Regions from separate parts of the Homo sapiens genome. Here region 2 is linked to region 1. The links come from fine-mapping of genetic effects on plasma protein levels. Region 1 holds a variant in brackets. A gene starts in the other region. All regions are shown on their forward strands. Region 1 has its middle 14 kb from the start of DRAM1. Region 2 holds the start of ENTPD6 (ectonucleoside triphosphate diphosphohydrolase 6).

The links. PIP is the chance, under the fine-mapping model, that this variant and not a neighbour inherited with it causes the effect. The UK Biobank Pharma Proteomics Project read protein levels with antibody pairs (Olink). The fine-mapping took linkage between variants from a reference panel, not from the people measured, so its PIPs are less certain.
Region 2: ENTPD6 starts here. The variant in region 1 is fine-mapped to the plasma level of the ENTPD6 protein (UK Biobank, PIP above 0.99).

The regions. Positions count from the first base shown.
Region 1 is chr12:101,858,853-101,868,140 of GRCh38, forward strand. No RefSeq gene overlaps it. Among named protein-coding and RNA genes, the nearest start is that of DRAM1, 14 kb to the right of the region's middle. RefSeq lists an enhancer at 977-1,146. The variant G/A (reference allele first, on the strand shown) is at 4,906.
Region 2 is chr20:25,187,679-25,196,966 of GRCh38, forward strand. ENTPD6 (ectonucleoside triphosphate diphosphohydrolase 6) reads left to right here and starts at 8,034. Exons shown (of 15, transcript NM_001247.5): 1 at 8,034-8,189. LOC101926889 (a long non-coding RNA gene) reads right to left here and starts at 9,214. Exons shown (of 6, transcript NR_109994.1): 1 at 8,945-9,214; 2 at 2,540-2,624; 3 at 175-269. RefSeq lists enhancers at 7,490-7,729, 8,580-8,649, 9,030-9,179 and a silencer at 7,870-8,289.

The DNA of each region.
Region 1 (9,288 bases):
GCTTGATCTGGGCTCACCGCAACCTCTGCCTCCAGGGTTCAAGTGATTCTTTTCCCTCAGCCTCCTGAGTAGCTGGGACTGCAGGTGCATGCCACCACGCCCGACTTATTTTTGTATTTTTAGTAGAGATGGGGTTTCACCATTTTGGCCAGGCTGGTCTCAAACTCCTAACCTCAAGTGATCCTCCTGCCTTGGTCTCCCAAAGTGCTGGGATTACAGGCATGAGCCACTGTGCCCAGCAAGATATTAATTTTTAAGTAAAAGAATTATGAAAGAAACCCCTCTCTCAAAAGAATCCTCCTCTCTTTGTCCTTGAGCAGGGAAGCAAACAATTACCTTCTGAACTTTTTGTCATTATCATAGCCACTTTCAATTCTTGTCCAATTCATATCAGATATAAAAAGAAAAACAACTGTGGCCAGGAGTGGTGGCTCATGCCTGTAATTGCAGCACTTTGGGAGGCCGAGGCGGGTGGATCATCTGAGGTCAGGATTTTGAGACCAGCCCAGGCAACACAGAGAAACCCCGATTCTACTGAAAATACAAAAATTAGCCAGGCATGGTGGTGGGCGCCTATAGTCCCAGCTACTCGGGAAGCTGAAGGGGGAGAATCGCTTGAACCTGGGAGGCAGAGTTTGCAGTGAGCCAAGATCACGCCACTGCACTCCAACCTGGACAACAGAAGGAGACTCTGTATCAAAAAACAAACAAACAAACAAAAAAACAAACAAAAAAACCTGACAAAATCTTTTCCTCCTTTTGTAATGTATTCACTGTGTGGAGAGATAAATCAATGAGATCTTTGTGAATGGGAGTATCATACTCAGTTTGTCTGCAGATAATGACAACTAAAACATGAACTGCACCTTGTAGGAATACCCTATGTAGAATTGTTGAAGTAAATAGAGATTTATGATTAGCTAAACTGAGAAAGTCAGATCATATGAGTTCCTATATTCATGAGGTAATTTAGAAACTATTCATAAGGGGAAGGGAGAAAAAAAACCTGACCTCTTAAAACTTACAAGAATTTCTCACATTGTCATAATGGAAATTCCCAAATTTCTCAAATGTGCTTTTTTTCTTCATCTCTGGTAGCATGAAAGCATCTGCCAAAAAATATGAAACTTAAGATGTATTTAATGCCATTGCCCAAACTTGTAATAACTTGTAATAATCAGATTATCCTTAAAACAGTCAAGTGTCATTCCCACAAAGGGCACTGGTGCTCTCTCCCTTTGAGTAATGAAAAATTTTAAACCTTTGCTTCTTCCTTCTGATGTCTGTACTCACAGGGTTTACAGTACCTTTTATGAGGTGCTACTATGCTGCTGGTATGTACAAATGTATAGCATCAGATTCTATAGGTAATAGTGTCAAACTACTATCAAGCATGCATCTATCTGTACACATGTTTTCAATAAACATGTATTAACCACTTATTTTGTGCTGGTGCTTGGCACTGGAAATAGAAATATGTAAGATTCAATTCCTGCTCACAACATTTAGAGTCTAGAGTCTATCCACTAGGTTGACAAGTTAACATTGTGAAATCTGTAATATAAAGAGCCTGAGGATACAGAGAAGTGACACAGAGGTCACACTTTGGGGCTGTTAGGAAGGGCTTCCTGAAGAAGGCCATTGCTGAGGAGAATACAATCCACAAGCATTTATTAAGTGCCTATGTCAAGCCCAGCTCCAAGCCTGGGTATACAGTAGTGAATAAAGGAGAAAGATATTCCTACCTGCATGAAGCTTACATTCTAGGAGAATAACGTGAAGAAAGAACAGAAGCTTGCCAGATGAATGATCCACAAAGAAATGAACAGTGTATCTTTGGAGGTTAGTTATATATAAGTAAGTATAGCTCAGAAAAGTCTCCAGCTCGCTGTGTAATCTCTGTCTTATCCAAAACTCACTGAGAACATGTTGAAGTGTCCCCAGTTTCTATAAAGGAGTGCTTCCCTCCACACCAGCGAACAGGGCCTAGAATCCATTCACAGGTGAGGGGCCTCTGCCATGAAAAAGACATGTGCAGGCGCATATGTGCACTCAATCACAGAGACACACATGCACATGCACACACACAGGGTGAGCCATTCACATGGTGACCACTGACACTGCACTGGCTAGTCCCAGTCTTGACATCCCCATTGTAACAATGCTCAATGCCAGAAGCAGGAATAGAAGGAAGAGATTCTACCTGGTCCCTACCCACAAGAGCTCGTTTTAAGTTTCTTCCTGATCACAAAAGGGAGAGTAGATGTTGTAATATTCATGGTGCTTTTTAAAGAGAGAGTACACACTAGTATGTGTGCCCCTTTTGTTCAGAGCAATGGTTATGCACTCTCACTCAAATAAACTTAAGTGTTTCAAAGGACTCTTGGATGGAGGATGTAACATCTACTTGGGTGTAATGATCCCTATGATCTTGCAATGTAAAAATACAGTATCTTGATTTTTTTCAAAAGATATAAAGATGTGGGCGGGCTGTGGTGGTTCACACCCATAATCCCACAAGTTTGAGAGGACAAGGTAAGAGGATTGCTTGAGCTCATAAGGTCAAGGCCAGCCTGAGAAACACAGTGAGATGCTGTCTCTATTTAAAAAAAAAAAATATATATATATAAAGGTGTGGGTGTGAATGCATTCCCTCCCTCCCTCCCTCCCTCCTTCCCTCCCTCCCCCCCTTTCTTCCTTCCTATTTCTTTATTGAACACATGCTATATATCCAGTGTAAAAAAATTAGACATACAGATATTTTTATAAATGAAAATAAAAGGAGAATCATATGGTTCCAGATGACATTGCTAATAATTTGGTATATCATTTTACAGATTCATTCTTCATGCTTATTTTTCATAAATTAATACACATGCATTTTATTTTACAAAGTAAGAATAATACTATACATTGGGGTCCCCAACCCCTGAACCATGGACCAGTACCACCTGTGGCCCATTAGGAACCAGGCTGCACAGCAGGAGGTGAGCAGCAGGTGAGCAAGCAAAGCTTCATCTGCATTTACAGCCACTCCCCATTGCTCATATTACCACCTGAGCCACGCCTCCTGTCAGATCAGTGGCAGCATTAGATTCTCATAGGAGCATGAACCCTATTGTGAACTGTGCATACCAGGGATCTAGGTTGTGGGCTCCTTATGAGAATCTAATGTCTGATGATCTGTCACTATCTCCCATCGCCTCCAGATGGGACTGTCTAGTTGCAGGTGACCAAGCTCAGGGTTCCCACTGATTTTACATTATGGTGAGTTATATAATCATTTTATTATATATTACAATATAATAATAATAGAAATAAAGTACACAATAACTAATGTGCTTGTCTCATCCCAAAACTACCCCCCAGCCCCCAGCCAAGTAGGTTTTTAAGAAAAAGAAAAGGTAATTCCTAACTTGCTTCCCAAGAATTTATATTCAAATAACATAAGCTATTGATTGGCCGTACATTGTTCTTTGCATCACAAATTCCAGGAATTCAATGATAATGGGTAAGGCAGCTAGTCAGGAACAAAATATCTTTAAACAATTGTCCTCAGGCATGGGCATGGCAGGGCATGGCTGAAGTCCTCTACTCATGTCTTTCTGGCCTGCTGAATTTTACATACTTCCCATACCACAGGGTGCTCTGAGTTATTTTTCTTTTCTCAGAGGCCTAGGAAATGAAGTCCCTGCCTGAGAAGCCTCTTCCCAGCAAGAACTACACAGTAGAAAAGTAGCATAAATCTCTTATCCCAGGTGAACATCTCATCATTTCTGCCTCGACATATGTTTTCTGCTTCTACAATACAACTTAGAAAAGTAGTATGGTTGTCAGACCGGGCACAGTGGCTCATGCCTGTAATCCCAGCATTTTGGGAGGCCGAGATGGTCGAATCACCAGGTCAGGAGTTTCAGACCAGCCTGACCAACATGGTGAAACTCGGTCTCTACTAAAAATACAAAAATTAGCCAGGCATGGTGGCATATGACTGTAATCCCAGCTACTCAGGAGGCTGAGGCGGCATAATCGCTTGAACCCAGGAGGCAGAGGTTGCAGTGAGCCGAGATCACACCATTGCACTCCAGCCTGGGCGACAGAGCCAGACTCCATCTCAAAAAAAAAAAAAAAAAAGGAGTATGGTTGTCATAGTGAAATGGGATTGTTCCCTTGACCTTGACCCCCGTCATGAGTGGGAACAGGAATGGCTCTTTTTACTCAGCCCACCGCTGGCCACTCCTCACGAGAGGTAGCATGTGAGCAAGTGAATGTGGGAACCGGAGGGAATGAATGCTGGAACCACCCAGTCACTCCTCTCTGGTGGGAGCAGGCTCTGTGCAGTGTTCAAGAACCCAGGTTCTTGTTCGGCATCCAGGAAGAATCAGGTCACATGAATAGATTGAAGGGTAGTGTATGCAGAGGATTTTATTGGGTGATGGATGTGGCTCTCAGTGGGATGGGAGTTGGAAAGGGGATGGTGTGGGAAGAAGGGATCTTTCCTTGAAGCCGCACCATCTGAAGTTAGCTGTGTCTATCCGTAGTTTCCAATGCTCAGTTGCTGCTTCTCTGCTTGCCATTCAGCCGCTTGTATCCCCCACGCTTAGCTATTTTTTTTTTTTTTTTTTTTTTTTTGCTTTGCCGGCTGATGTTCTTTGTGGGCACAGCATAGGGGCAGGGCAGACCAAAAAGGCAGCGTTTGGGTGGAAAAATGGAGTCAGCTGTTTTCACTTAGGGCCAGGCTTAGAGTGGGTTTAGCTGGGACCCCAGGCATTCTGTATCAATAAGGTGACTCAGTGTTATGAGCTACATATTTGTGTCCCCTTCAAAGTCATTTGTTGAAAGCTTAAACCCCAACAGGGTCAGTTGCAGTGGCTCATGCCTGTAATCCCAGCACTTTGGGAGGCC[G/A]AGGCAGGTGGATCACTTGATGTCAGGAGTTTGAGACCAGCCTGGCCAACATAGTGAAACCCCATCTATACTAAAAACACAAAAATTAGCTGGGCTTCGTGGCATGCACCTGCAGTCTCAGTTACTTGGGAGGCTGAGGCAGGAGAATTGCTTGAACCCAGGAGGCAGAGATTGCAATGAGCTGAGATCACTCCATTGCACTCCAGCCTGGGTGACAGAGAAAGACTCCATCTCAAAAAAAAAAAAAAAAAGAAAGAAAAAAGAAAAAAAAAAAAAGAAAAGAGAAAAAGAAAACCACAATGGGATGCTAATAGAATGTGGAGGCTTTGGGAGGTAATTAGATCATAAGGGTGGAGCCCTCATGATGGGATTGATGCCCTTATTAGAAGTCATGAAATGTGCTGGCTTCCTCTCTCTTTATACTCTCCACCCTGGGAGGACACAGCAAGATGATGCAAATCAGGAAGCTGGGGTTCACCAGACATGGGATCTGCAAGCACCTTGATCTTGGACTTCCCAGCATCCACAACTGTGAGAAATATATGATTGTAATTGGAGCCACTCTATCTATGGTAATTTGTTATAGCTGCCCAAACTAAGACACTAATGAAGTGTGAAATTATATGAGATTGTATTTTTGGTTTTTGAGACAAGGTCTTACTCTGTTGCCCAGGCTGCAGTGCAGTTGGCGAGATCATGGCTAACTGCAGCTTCATCCCCCTGGGTTCAAGCAATCCTCCTACCTCAGGTCCAGCTATTACACTTGGCTAAATTTTTAAATTTTTTTGTAGATACAGGGGTCTCCCTATGTTGCCCAGGATGGGCTTGAACTTCTGAGCTCCAGTGATGCTCCCACCTTAGCCTTCCAAATTGTGAGAATTAGCCAGGCGCAGTGGCTCATGTCTGTAATCCTAGCACTTTGGGAAGCTGAGGTGGGCAGATGACTTGAGGTTGGGAGTTCGAGAACAGCCTGGCTAACATGGCAAAACCCTGAGGTCAGGAGTTGAAGACCAGCCTGACTAGCATGACGAAACCCCATCTCTAATAAAAATACAAAAATTAGCCAGGTGTGGTGGCACATGCCTGTAGCTTCAGCTACTCGAGAGGCTGAGGATTGCTTAAACCCAGGCAGCAGGGGTTGTTGTTAGCTGAGATCATGCCACTGCACTCCAGCCTGGGTGACAGAGTGAGACCCTGTGTGACACACACACACACACACACACACACACACACACACACACACACACACATTATGAGAATTACACCCCGAGACAGGCCTATTGAACTTTCTTCAGGGCTCACCAAATGTCACCGGACAAATAAGAAGGGTTCTCTGAGTTAGGCATGCTGGACTTCCATCAGCAATTCCTTCTGAGATCCCTTCCACATATACAAACACACACAAAGATATGACAGACAGAAGGCCTTCCAAATCAGATCCCTAACCAAGAATTCCAAGAGTATCCCTTCCAAACTATCCTATTCTCCATCTGAGAAATCTCCCTGAAATCTTCCTCATCAAGGAGAAGTCTCCAGAATCAGGAATCTTCCTATTAGTTAGGGAGAGCCAAGTGAGACCTCCCAGGAGCCAAACAAAACAGACAACCTATGATGGAGCTACAAACAGACACCCTGCCAAATTCATCTCTTTGGGTCAACCGTGTCCCACCAGTAGAGAGTACCAGAGTCAGCCCCCAGTCCAAGAGAACTAGGTGGCTGCTTGGGCTGGCCTCTGGATCCATTGCTGGAGGGGGGCTACTGAACCACAGGCAGGTAATTACAGGGCAATCCCAGACGAGCCCCAAATTTGTAACCGCCCAATGGGTTTGCCTTGTCCACTGCCTAGACAGAGCCAATTTATCAAGACAGGGGAATTGCAATAGAGAAAGAGTAATTCATGCAGAGCCAGCTGTGTGGGAGATGGAGTTGTATTATTACTCAGATCAGTCTCCCTGAGCATTCAGGGATCAGAGTTGTTTGTTGGTTTTTTTCTTTTTTTTGAGACAGAGTTTCGCTCTTATTGCCCAGGCTAGAGTGCAATGGTGCGATCTCAGCTTCCTCCAACCTCCGCCTCCCCGGTTGAAGCGATTCTCCTGCCTCAGCCTCCCAAGTAGCTGGGATTACAGGTGCCTGCCACCACACCCAGCTAATTTTTGTATTTTTAATAGAGACGGGGTTTCACCATGTTGGTCAGGCTGGTCTAGAGTTCCTGACCTTGTGATCCACCCGCCTTGGCCTCCCAAAGTGCTGGGATTACAGGCATGAGCCTCTGCGCCTGGCAAGGGATCAGAGTTTTTAAGAATAATTTGGTGAGTGGGGAAGGTCAGTGAGTCAAGAGTGCTGATTGGTTGGGTCAGAGATAAAATCACGGGAAGTTGAAATTGTCATCTTGTGCTGAGTCAGTTCCTGGATGGGGGCCGCGAGATCAGATGAGCCAATTTATCCATCTAGGGTGGTTCCAGCTGATCCATCAAGTGCAGGGTCTGCAAAATATCTCAAGCACTGATCTTAGTGATACAATGAAAGAGGCAGGAGGCAGAGAAATTCTAGGCAGACAGGGGCAGGTCTCTGGTGAAGCCCCACCCTCAAGCTGAAAAGCCTGAGACCACGGCTCAAAGTCAGAACTCATATCCCCGTTTTCCCGCTTGAATGTTGCCTTTTCCTGAATCACCTATGACCCCGCCCTACCCTAGCCTGTGCCTATAAATACCCCAGACTCACCTTCAGAAAGGAGAAGCAGCTGGACACTGGGGACTATGGCTGGACGTTGGAGAGAAGTGACTTGACTTCAGAGGGACAGTTTGATGGCATAACTTCAGAGAACAATCCGGCCAGAGACAGCTGACTTCAGGGGAAGATTACCTACCCACTCTATCTTTTTTTTCAGCTCCCCTTCCCGCTATAAGCCACTTTAATCCGTCATAAAATCCCCTGCATGACCATCCTTCAATTCGTTTATGTGACCTCGTTTCTCCTGGACTCTGGACAAGAGCTCAGGAGCCACAAGTGCGGATTCAAAAGGCTGTCTATTGGCCCTTAGCCTTTGCTGGCAGAGGGCAGCTGCCTACACGAAAGGGCAGCGGGCCCACTGAGCTGTTAACAAAGTTGCTGATGGATGGCAGAGCTAAAAGAGCACTGTAACACGCCCCCTGGGGCTTTGGAAGTTGCAGGTACCTCTGCCTGGACACTGCTGAGGGGCCTGCACAAACTTCACTGCTGCTGGTGCCCAAAAGCACTCACTCTGGCTCCTGCACCCATTCACCTGTGTGCTCCCTCCCGCAAGGGGTGGAACACAATGGGCCTGCGTGAGTGGAGTTTGATCCCACTGGTGCTGAAGCAGCCAGCCAATTCCAGCGCTTGTGCACTCCAATTCCTGCCTTGCTTGCTTGCGTGCTTCCTCCTGCAAGGAGTTGAGAGTGGTGGGCTAAGTAAACAAGGCACCCCTGTTGCAAGTCCCGTGAAGGGGTCAGGGAAATATCCTGCTTCATTAGGAACAGTGTAGGTAGGGTCAGAATCTTGGAGCCTCCAGCTGCATGATTCCTAAACCATAATTTCTAATCTTGTGGCTAATTTGTTAGTCCTACAAAGGCAGTCTAGTCCCCAGGCAAGAAGGGGGTTTGTTTTGGGAAAGGGCTGTTATCATTGTTATCATCTTTGTTTTTTTTTGTGATTGTTTTGTTTTTTGTTTGTTTGTTTGTTTTGAGACAGAGTCTCTCTCTGTCACCCAGGCTGGAGTGCAATGGCACAATCTCAGCTCACTGCAACCTCCACCTCCCGGGTTCAAGCAATTCTTCTGCCTCAGCCTCCTGAGTAGTTGGGATTACAGGCATCCATCACCATGCCTGACTAATTTTTGTATTTTTAGTAGAGACAGGGTTTTGCCATGTTGGTCAGGCTGGTCTCAAACTCCTGACCTCAGGTGATCCGCCTGCCTTGGCCTCCCAAAGTGCTAGGATTATAGGCGTGAGCCACCATGCCTGGCTTATCTTTGTTTTAAACCATAACTATAAGTAAGTTCCTCCCAAAGGTAGTTCAGCCTATGCCCAGGAATGAACAAGGACAGTTCGGAGGTTGGAAGCAAAATGGAGTTGGTTAGGTCAGCTCAGTTATAATTTTGCAATGGTGGTTTCAATGTTAACTTTAATCAGCTTGTTAAATTGGTGTCTACCATATTTCTCCTGCAAAGATCTTTTTTTCTCTTTCCATACTCAAGTCTTCAGAAGCAAATCACTTAGTCCACACTCCTTTTTATTATTTTTTTACATTTTATTTATTTATTTCAGACAGAGTTTCACTCTGTCACTTAGGCTGGAGTGCAGTGGTGTGAGCACAGCTCATTGCAACCTCTGCCTCTGGGCTCAGGTAATCCTCCCAGCTCAGCCT
Region 2 (9,288 bases), not on the chromosome of region 1:
CAGCCTCTCAGCCCAGTGTGATGTGTCACCCTGTGACCCACAGCCCTGCTTTCAGCCTGTCAGAAACGGCTTCATTTTAAACTTCACCTGAACTCCTCCCTTCTCCGCAATCCTGTCTATCCCATGCTGAAGGCAGGAGGCCTCTGATGTGGCTTCCTCGCTGCAGTTACTAACCCTCACTTTGTCGTGGACAGCTGTGCCCTGGCGCCATTCACTGAAGGGGCTTTATCAGTCTTCAGAAACACCCTTCCTGAGCGTGAGGTGCTGGGCTGTAAAATATACATACATTCTTTAAAAAGGCAAATGCTTGATGATACAGTGCTATTTGGACTTCATTTTTTTGAACCTTTGCAATGCCCTTTCTCAACAAAACAAAACAAAATTTGACTTGGATTCTTAGATAATGGAATTGGCTGCAGGAAGCATTTGTTTTATCACCCCTTGAATGTTAACAATAACCCTGAGAGAGCTATCTGTACTGAGCATGAAGGAAATAATATATACAGTGGTCCATTTCCAAGACAAAGTGCCTTGAATTGGTTTAGGTCAGCAAACTACAGAAGAAACAGGATACACTAGGCCCCTGCTTGGATAGCCAATGCCTGCTTGTCGCCTCCCCACCCTCCACCCTACCCCACTGCCTTAGTTGCCCTCACCCAAACCAAAGGAGTTTAGTCTAAGATGAAAGTTTACTAGCTTGCAAAATAGCTCACTTTGTCTGTTCTTATCAGCCTGCCCAGATACTTAGGTCATAAGTCAAGTACTTGAAGAGCCCTTGAGCTAACTAGGATTGCAATGTATTATGGCTGCAACAAAATGCAGCAGAACAATCCTAAAGAAAATGCCTAAAACCCCTACCCAACAACCAATAGGCAATGTCCAGGAAGACTGTGACCCCATAGTACTCAGCCTATGAGGAACCAAGGGAGGGACCTGCACACTAGGGGATAAATTGCTTTTGAAACTGTACTGGGTGTGCCTGCCCATCAGACACCCGATCTTGCAAGATTGTCATTAAAGTCTCGCTTCCACTGTTCTCTGGGTCTCTGAGCCCAAACTTTGGGTTTGGACCAGTGAGTTTGTTTCTCACAGCATGACCTACTCTCCACCATGATGTGCAGCATTGCAGTGAGCAGAGAACAGCCTCCCTTCCCACTCACCCACCTGCCTCTTGGTTAGACATAAGTTCTCTTGTAACTTCTTTTGCTTCATTTATTTTAAATAAGAATAATAAAGTTTTAGTCTTTAATTTAAAAAAAGAAGATAGGCTAAAAATTAATATGTGTTCAGCTTAAACTAGAAAATTTTAAAAAACAACACACTCTAAGTACAAAGAAAGAAATAATAAAGATGAAATAAATTTAAAAATATTAAACAAAGATACAGAGGAGTTCCACAAAGCCAAAAGTTAGCTCTTGGGGAAGAGAAGTAATAAAACTTAGGCATTTCTGGAGATGCTGACCAAGAAAAAAAGGAAAATTTACAAATTAATTATTATGAGTGAAATGGAGGCTATCGCTGCAAATGCTAAGAAGATGTGAATAATGTTATACCAGTAACACTGAAAACTTAGGTGAAATGTGATGATTCCTTTAGAAAGATGCCAAAACTGCCTGCGAAAGAAGTAGAAAGCTTGATTAGAAATAGAATCAGCAGTTTAAAATATTTCACACAGAAAACAGAAATATTCCATCAAATATTCAAGAAATAGAAACTTCAAAACTTAAACCCATTTAGAAGATTTAAAGGCAGAAAATCTCCAACTCATTCTGTAAGGCTAATTTAATCTTGATAGTTTCTAAACAAGTACTATATTAGAAAGAACATTAGAAGCCAATCTTTTTGTGAATGTAGGAGCAAAGAACCTAAACACAATGTTAGCAAGTCAAATCCAGCAATGTATTTTAAAAGTATGCTTATTTGGGAATGCGGGAATGATTCAACGTTAGAACTTATCATATTAACAAATTAGTGGGCCGGCGCGGTGGCTCACGCCTGTAATCCCAGCACTTTGGAAGGTTGAGGCAGGTGGATTGCCTGAGGTCAGGAGTTCGAGACCAGTCTGGCCAACATGGTGAAACCCCGTCTCTACTAAAAATACAAAAGAATTAGCTGGGCATGCCAGCGTGTGCCTGTAATCCCAGCTACTTGGGAGGCTGAGGCAGGGGAATTGCTTGAACCAGGGAGGTGGAGGTTGCAGTGAGCCAAGATCATGCCACTGCACTCCAGCCTGGGTGACAGAGCGAAACTCCATCTCAAACAAAAAAGAAAATTAGTGGAGAAAAATAATAATATCATGTATAGATGAAGGAAATGCACAAAATAAAACTGAACATTCATTAATGATTTTTTAAAACTCTTAAACTAGAAATAGAAGAACATTTTCTTAATCTGGTAGACGACAACCTATACAATGTAAAATGCTAAAGGCCCTCATGGAGAGAAGACAGTCCATTAACAGCTACTCTAAATGGGACAATCTGTTCACACCAGTCTCCCCCTACCAGGACAGTCGACCAATTGCCAAGAACAGTATTACCTGTTTTACAGCTGCACTTCATGTGGTCCCAACAAGACTATCACTACAGTGCAAGATGACATCTGTTGGATCATCCATCGGGAAGCTAAAAGAGACCACACAATGGCCCATGTGGCAGGCAGGAATCATAAATGCCAAGTTCTCTTGGGGAAGAGTAGGGTTTCCCTCACATTTTTTCTTGTTTGTAGTAGATTTTGGAAAATGGAAGGCTAGCCATGAGCAGGGAAGATCTGACTTTTTTGGTGAGTTACAGGAAAAATATTTGGTAGAGAAAGCAGTGATTTGTGGTTATAGATTTCAGGGAACCAAAGGAAGAAATCAGAGCAGTGGCTAAGATGTTTTGTTTGATATTATTAACAAATGACCTATGAGTGATGGTATCTTAGGTTGAATTCTTCCAAAACAAATTCTAAAGAATGATTTGAGTGCAAGTAGTTTATTTAGGAGGTGACACCAGGAAAAACCAGTAGAGGAGTGGGGCAGTGAGACAGGGAAGGGAGGAAAGCCAGTGTGGGTTACCGCTCTGGACCACTGTGTTCAATGCCAAGTAGACATGCCGGAGAGTTGTCCTGAGTGGAAAGGGAGCCAGGGTCTTTGCACCTGACATGGGCTGAAACTGCTCTCAGAAGCATTACCTCCTGGCACTTCCTCTGCCAAAAGAAGGCCCTGCTGTGGAGAGTCACGGGAGCACACAGTGGGACAGACACAGGCAGGAGGCCTGGCAGCCTCTGCTACAGAGACACTGCACAGTCCATGTTCTGTTCCTTCACTGAGCAGACAGCTTTGCAGCTGTCCTCCTGGACTTTTGTGAGTAGGTGGACACATGTGAGCAAGCCACACACAATAGAGGGCTTCCTCCACTATTACTCAAGTTAGGTAAATTGAGGCAGCTTGGTAACTCACCAACCTCTTCTAAAACATTCTCACCCCCAAAAAGCAGGGCCAGGCACTCCCCCCTGCTGTCAGAACACTTGCATACATGTTCTGCTGGAGCCCATGTCTCAGTTATCTGCTCCTGCATTCCTAGGGCGGGTGCCAATTGGCTTCCTTCACCTTCTGCCTGCAGGGCTGAGCTGCTTCTGGCTGACAAGTGAAAACATTAGAAGCACCCTCATCAATCCATCCATTTCTTCAAGAAATATTTTATATGTTGACTTCATTTGAGTTTACCCAAAGGCAGTTTGAGTCAAGAGCTTAGATGCAGGTAGTTGACCTGGGAGGTGATTCCCAGAAGCAGGAGAGAGAGAGAGAGAGAGAACCGAGAAAGATCGGAGGACCAACCCAAGGGGGCATTACTGAGCTGATCACCACTAAGGGTCACTGAGGCTCACTTCTACTGAGGACTCAGAATTGGTCCTCTGGGGACAGAAGGCTGAGGTATATATCCCCAGTTAATTAAGGGTTGCTGTGAAGGAGGTTCACTGTGCATTGGTTACCAACATGTCTGTGTCCAGTGAGAGAGAACGCATTCATACTCAATAAGTTATATGAAGCAAATTTATTACTTACAGACAGGCAGCAAGGGACAAGAGGAGCATTCATTGCAAGCTGGTTGCCTGAGGCTCAGGAAATCTGCTCAGGGCAAATGGAGTCTCAACTGGGCATGCCCCACTTGCACCACAGACGAGGAATGCCAGAGAGCAGCCTGCCCTGGGTTTAACATCCCAGGGTAATGTGATTTGCTGGGCAGTGTTGAAGGACATCCTATTTTCAGCAGGAGACTGGAACTGACCTTGGGCTGTTCAGCCAGTTCTCCCTTATCTCAAGATGCTGCAATCCTAGCACATTCTGCAGTTATTCCTGAGAACTACATGGTAAAAAGGGGACTGGGTCTGTCCAAGGCCACCCAAACTGCCCTGCAGTTGCCCCGGGGATGTTAAATTTCCCTGAATTCCAGGCTGCGCCTGCTCCCAAGGCTTCCGGAGAAAGTCGTAAGATAAGCCCTAAAGAGGACAGCAACGAGATGCTTGAGGTGGCAGCATTCAGGGGAACTCTCCACAACAATCAGAGAGCTGACGGCAGAGGCAGGCAAGGGACATTAGCACCAATAATGTATGCTACAGGCACCTACCATGTTCTAGACAGAGTGCCAGACATGCAGCAGTGAGCAGGACAGACCAACTTATTTGTTCTCATGGAGCTTCATTTCAGTAGTGGAACAAAGAATTTACCAATAAACAAGTCAGCAAACAAGTAATGACGGGTGTTGTGTCTTTGCAAAAATTATGACAATAAGAAAAATATGACATAGGAAAATTACAACAGTGAAAGAAAGCTGGCCTAACCGACTCCATCTTCTAACCTCCAATCTGCCTTTGCACATTCCTGGGCATAGGCCAAACAAATCTGTGGAGAAACTTAGTTTATAATTTCACTTTAAACCAAATATAACAGCCCCCCCCTGAAACAAACCTCCTTCTTGCTTGGGGACCAGACCACCTTTGTGAAACTAACAAATTAGCCACAAGATTAAAATTTATGGGCCGGGCGCGATGGCTCACACCTGTAATCCCAGCACTTTGGGAGGCCAGGGTGGGCAGATCACCTGAGGTCAGTAGTTCAAGACCAGCCTGGCCAACATGGTGAAACCCTGTCTCTACTAAAAATATAAAAATTAGCCGGGCGTGGTGGCAGGTGCCTGTAATCCCAGCTACTCAGGAGGCTGAGGCAGGATAATTGCTTGAACCCGGGAGGCAGAGGTTGCAGCGAGCCGAGATCACACCATTGCACTCCAGCCTGGGGGACAAGAGCAAGACTTCATCTCAAAAAAAAAAAAAAAAAAAAATTATGGCTTAGGAGTCATGCAGCCCGAAGCCACAAGATTCCTAACCTCCATAATTGCTCCAATAGATAATATTACTATTATATAACATAAGATTGGTGTTCAAGGTATTTTTCAGACCCCACATTGTGATGGACTAGCCACCCAGACTGGTAAACTGGCTATCTCGTCTTGTGACCCCAACCCAGGAACTAACCCAGAGCAAGACGAAAGCTTCATCTCTTCAGGATTTCATCCCTAACCCAACCAATCAGCACTCACCATTCCCTAGCCCCCTGACTGCTAAACTATCTTTTAAAAACCCTAGCCTCCAGACTGGCACAATCCCAGCACTTTGGGAGGCCAAGGAGGGCAAATCACTTGAGAGCAGGAGTTCGAGACCAGCCTGGCCAACACGGTGAAACCCCGTCTCTACTAAAAATACAAATAATTAGCTGGGCATGGTGGTGTGCGCTTGTAATCCCAGCTACTTGTAAGGCTGAGGCATGAGAATCGCTTGAACAGGAGGTGGAGGTTGCAGTAAGCCTAGACTGCACCACTGCACTCCAGCCTGGACAACAAAGCAAGACACTGTCTCAAAAACAAACCCCCCCCAAAAAATTCCTTAGACTCCGAATTTGAGGAGAGGCTGATTTGAGGAGTAATAAGCCTCTGCTCTCCTGGTTAGCCAGCTCTATGTGTATCGAACTCTTTATTGCAATTCCCATCTTGAAAAATTGGCTCTATCTGGGCGACAGGCAAGAAGAAGCTGTTGGGTGGTTACAGTGTGATGAGTGCTATGAAGGAAATAACATAAAAGGTGACAGAGAATAACTAGAGGAGGCCATTCTAGATAAAATGGTCTGAGGAGGTGACATTTGAGCTGAGTATTAAACATTGAGAAACAATCTACGAAGGGAAGATGTGGTGCAAGACCTTTCCAAGCAGTGTATAATACACACAAAAGCCCATGCCAGCAAAAAGATTTTACTTTCACAAATTCTAGAAACTCTAAGAGTAAAAAGTGGTGAAAAGAAAGGAAGTGATAACACATGTTGCCAAGTGCAGCAGGCAGAAACAGGGCCATCACCACTTCACGACAGGATCTCAAAATACTAGGAAGTGTAAATTAAAACCATGAGATATAGTTTTGTCATTATTGGATTGGGAAAGATCCAAAAGTTTGGAAAGACCCCACTGGTGAAGATGTGTGGAAACCCACAGTCTTACACATTATTTGCCAGAGTGTAAATTAGTACAGTGTCTAAGGGGGGCAATTTAGCCACGTTTGGCTAATATATTATTTTAAAGGACATATCCCACCATAGCCAATTCCACCTCTAAGAATATTTCTGACAGATATACCCACATGCATGCACAAAGACAATCCACGGGATCCAGTCACATTATTCCTAACCCAAAGCAACTGGGAAACACTTCAAGGTCCATCAGTGAAGGCCCGCATAGGCTAACCTCTGTAATAACCAAATCTCAGTGGCAGTGTCCAACCAGGTGCTTGTGGGCGACCTTCCAACAGGCACCGCATTGCCCGGCTGCCAGGCCGGGCCTGTGTACTGTCCCCGCATCCCATACAGCTAGCACTTATTCACCCTCAAAAGCGTCCCATCCTGAAAATAAACTCTTGCCCACTTGGTGCTTCAGGAACCTGGGCTTCTTCCACTAATAGCTCTCCCAGATGCCCCAGTGCGCAGGTGGGGCCGTCCTCTAGGACCAGGCCTGGCTGGGGCGCACCCACACCTCCTTGGCCAGACGCCATGGGCCGGGAAGGGGCTCTGGCCCTTGCGGGAATGAGGGCGCCTAGCATAGGTGTGCAAGTGGGCAGCCCCCACCGTGGGGTCCTTAAGTAAGCTGGAGCCTGTGAGCCAGGACAGTCAGGAGTTGCAACCTTGGTGATTTCTAGGAAGACAGAAAATGGGGTCAAGGGCCGGGTGTGGTGGCTTATGCCTATAGACCCAGCACTTTGGGAGGCCGAGGCAGGCGGATCACCTTAGGTCAGGAGTTCGAGACCAGCCTGACCAACAGGGCGAAACCTCGTCACTACTAAAGGTACAAAAATTAGCCAGGCGTGGTGGCGCACACCTGTAATCCCAGCTACTCAGGAAGCTGAGGCAACAGAATCGCTTGAACCCGGGAGGCAGAGGTTGCAGTGAGCTGAGACCACATCACTGCACTCCAGCCTGGGTGAGAACCTGTTAAAAAAAAAAATAAGAAAATGGGGTCAAGAAACGGTGGGAGGAGGGCAGATTTCATGAACCTGCCTGCTATGATGTGGCTGCATTTCCATCATGCATTGTCCTAAAAAAAGAAAAAGAAAAAAATAAAATGTAGACGTGGAGGGATGGGGGAAATTGCACAGGCCGGTCCAGGCTGTGAGGCTGCCCCCTACCAGGGACGACGAGGGCCAGCTCCGCCGCGCCGTAAGGAAACTGGCCAAGGGAACCCCTTGAATCTGGCGAGGGCCCGCCATGAGACGCTCGGGGAACCAGACTGCCGAGCCCCCCTCTCTGGGCCGACGCCAGCCCGGCTGTGGACTGGAGAAAACCGCAAGGCCACCTGCAGAAAGAAAAGAAGGCCATCGCGCCTACGCAGCTGAGCACCCATACTCCGCCCGCGCCTGCGCAACTGGGTCCCCCGACCCCCACCTCCTCTCCCGCCTGCGCATGCGCGGCTGGGTGCGCCCCCCCGCCCAGCCTGTGACGCCACGTGCATGGGGCGGAGCCCAGGCCCTAGGGAATCGTGGGGTCGTATCCCGCGGGTGGAGGCCGGGGTGGCGCCGGCCGGGGCGGGGGAGCCCAAAAGACCGGCTGCCGCCTGCTCCCCGGAAAAGGGCACTCGTCTCCGTGGGTGTGGCGGAGCGCGCGGTGCATGGTAAGCGGCGGGCCGGGGCGCTGGCGGGGGCGGCCGGGGATCACCGACTGTAGGCGGGCCTCCCCCACGCGGGCGCGCTGCGCTCCGGAGGACGGCCTCGGGGTCACTCGCACCCCGGGTCCCACCTCCTGCTGCCTTCCTGTCCAGGCTCCATTAGGGCTCCCTGGATGTCTGGGCTCCGCTGACCGGTGGGGGGCAAGTCCAGTGTTTTGGGCCACAGGGCGGGCCAAATAGCAGGGGCCTGTAGCCCCAGGGGGCCCCAGCCCTGCTGCGTTCATTCATTCAGCCCGCTTTTGCGGACCCGCCCCCAGTCTGCGTCAGGGACAGACCCCTCCGCCCTGGATGAGCCCGGCGGGGAAGCTTCGCGTAGCAGTTTCTGGGAAACAGGTAGGATCAGGCCGCTCGGACAGGACTGAGGGTGTAAGGACGATTCACCCTGGCATTGGGGTGGTGTCCCGAGGAGCTCATAGGTGGTCAGGGCGGTTCTGCCCGAGCTGACCTGTGAGCCGCGAATGCCCTGGACCGAGGGAGGGAGAGCCCCCTAGGTGGACAGACTAGACTCCTTCAGTGGAAAACATTCAACAGCCAGGAGAGCGTGGAAGAGGAAGGAGAGATGGGAGGGCCCAGGGGAGCGTGGAAGGGAGGGTGTTTTTATTATAAGTGCACCTGTAAGTGCAAAGTGCAAAGGAAGCAGCCGCCGGGAAGTGCCTGGGCAGCTCTGGGTGTCCCTCCAGGCACCTGTATTCCAGCCTTACCTGCGCGAAGCCACACATCCCACGTCACACAGGATACGGGGAAGTCAGCCATAGCCTGCAGGCGGGGAATCTGAAACCTCGCGCAGGAGTTCCTTGGGAGAGGTGGATTACAAGGACTCTTCCTCCCACCCGCTGTGCAAGAGCCATGGGCGGCCGGTAGTCATTTTTGAAGGACCTGGCAAGCACTGTACAAATCTCAAAATTGCTTTTTGTCCCCCTCCCCTTGCCTTGGAGAGAGTGGCTGGCTAGTGTGTGTGTCGTCTGCCTCCTGAAGGTTCGGGTAAAGGACCAGGGAGGTGGGCAGCCCTTTGTGTCAGGAGATCTGGAAGCGCCTCCCCTCCCAC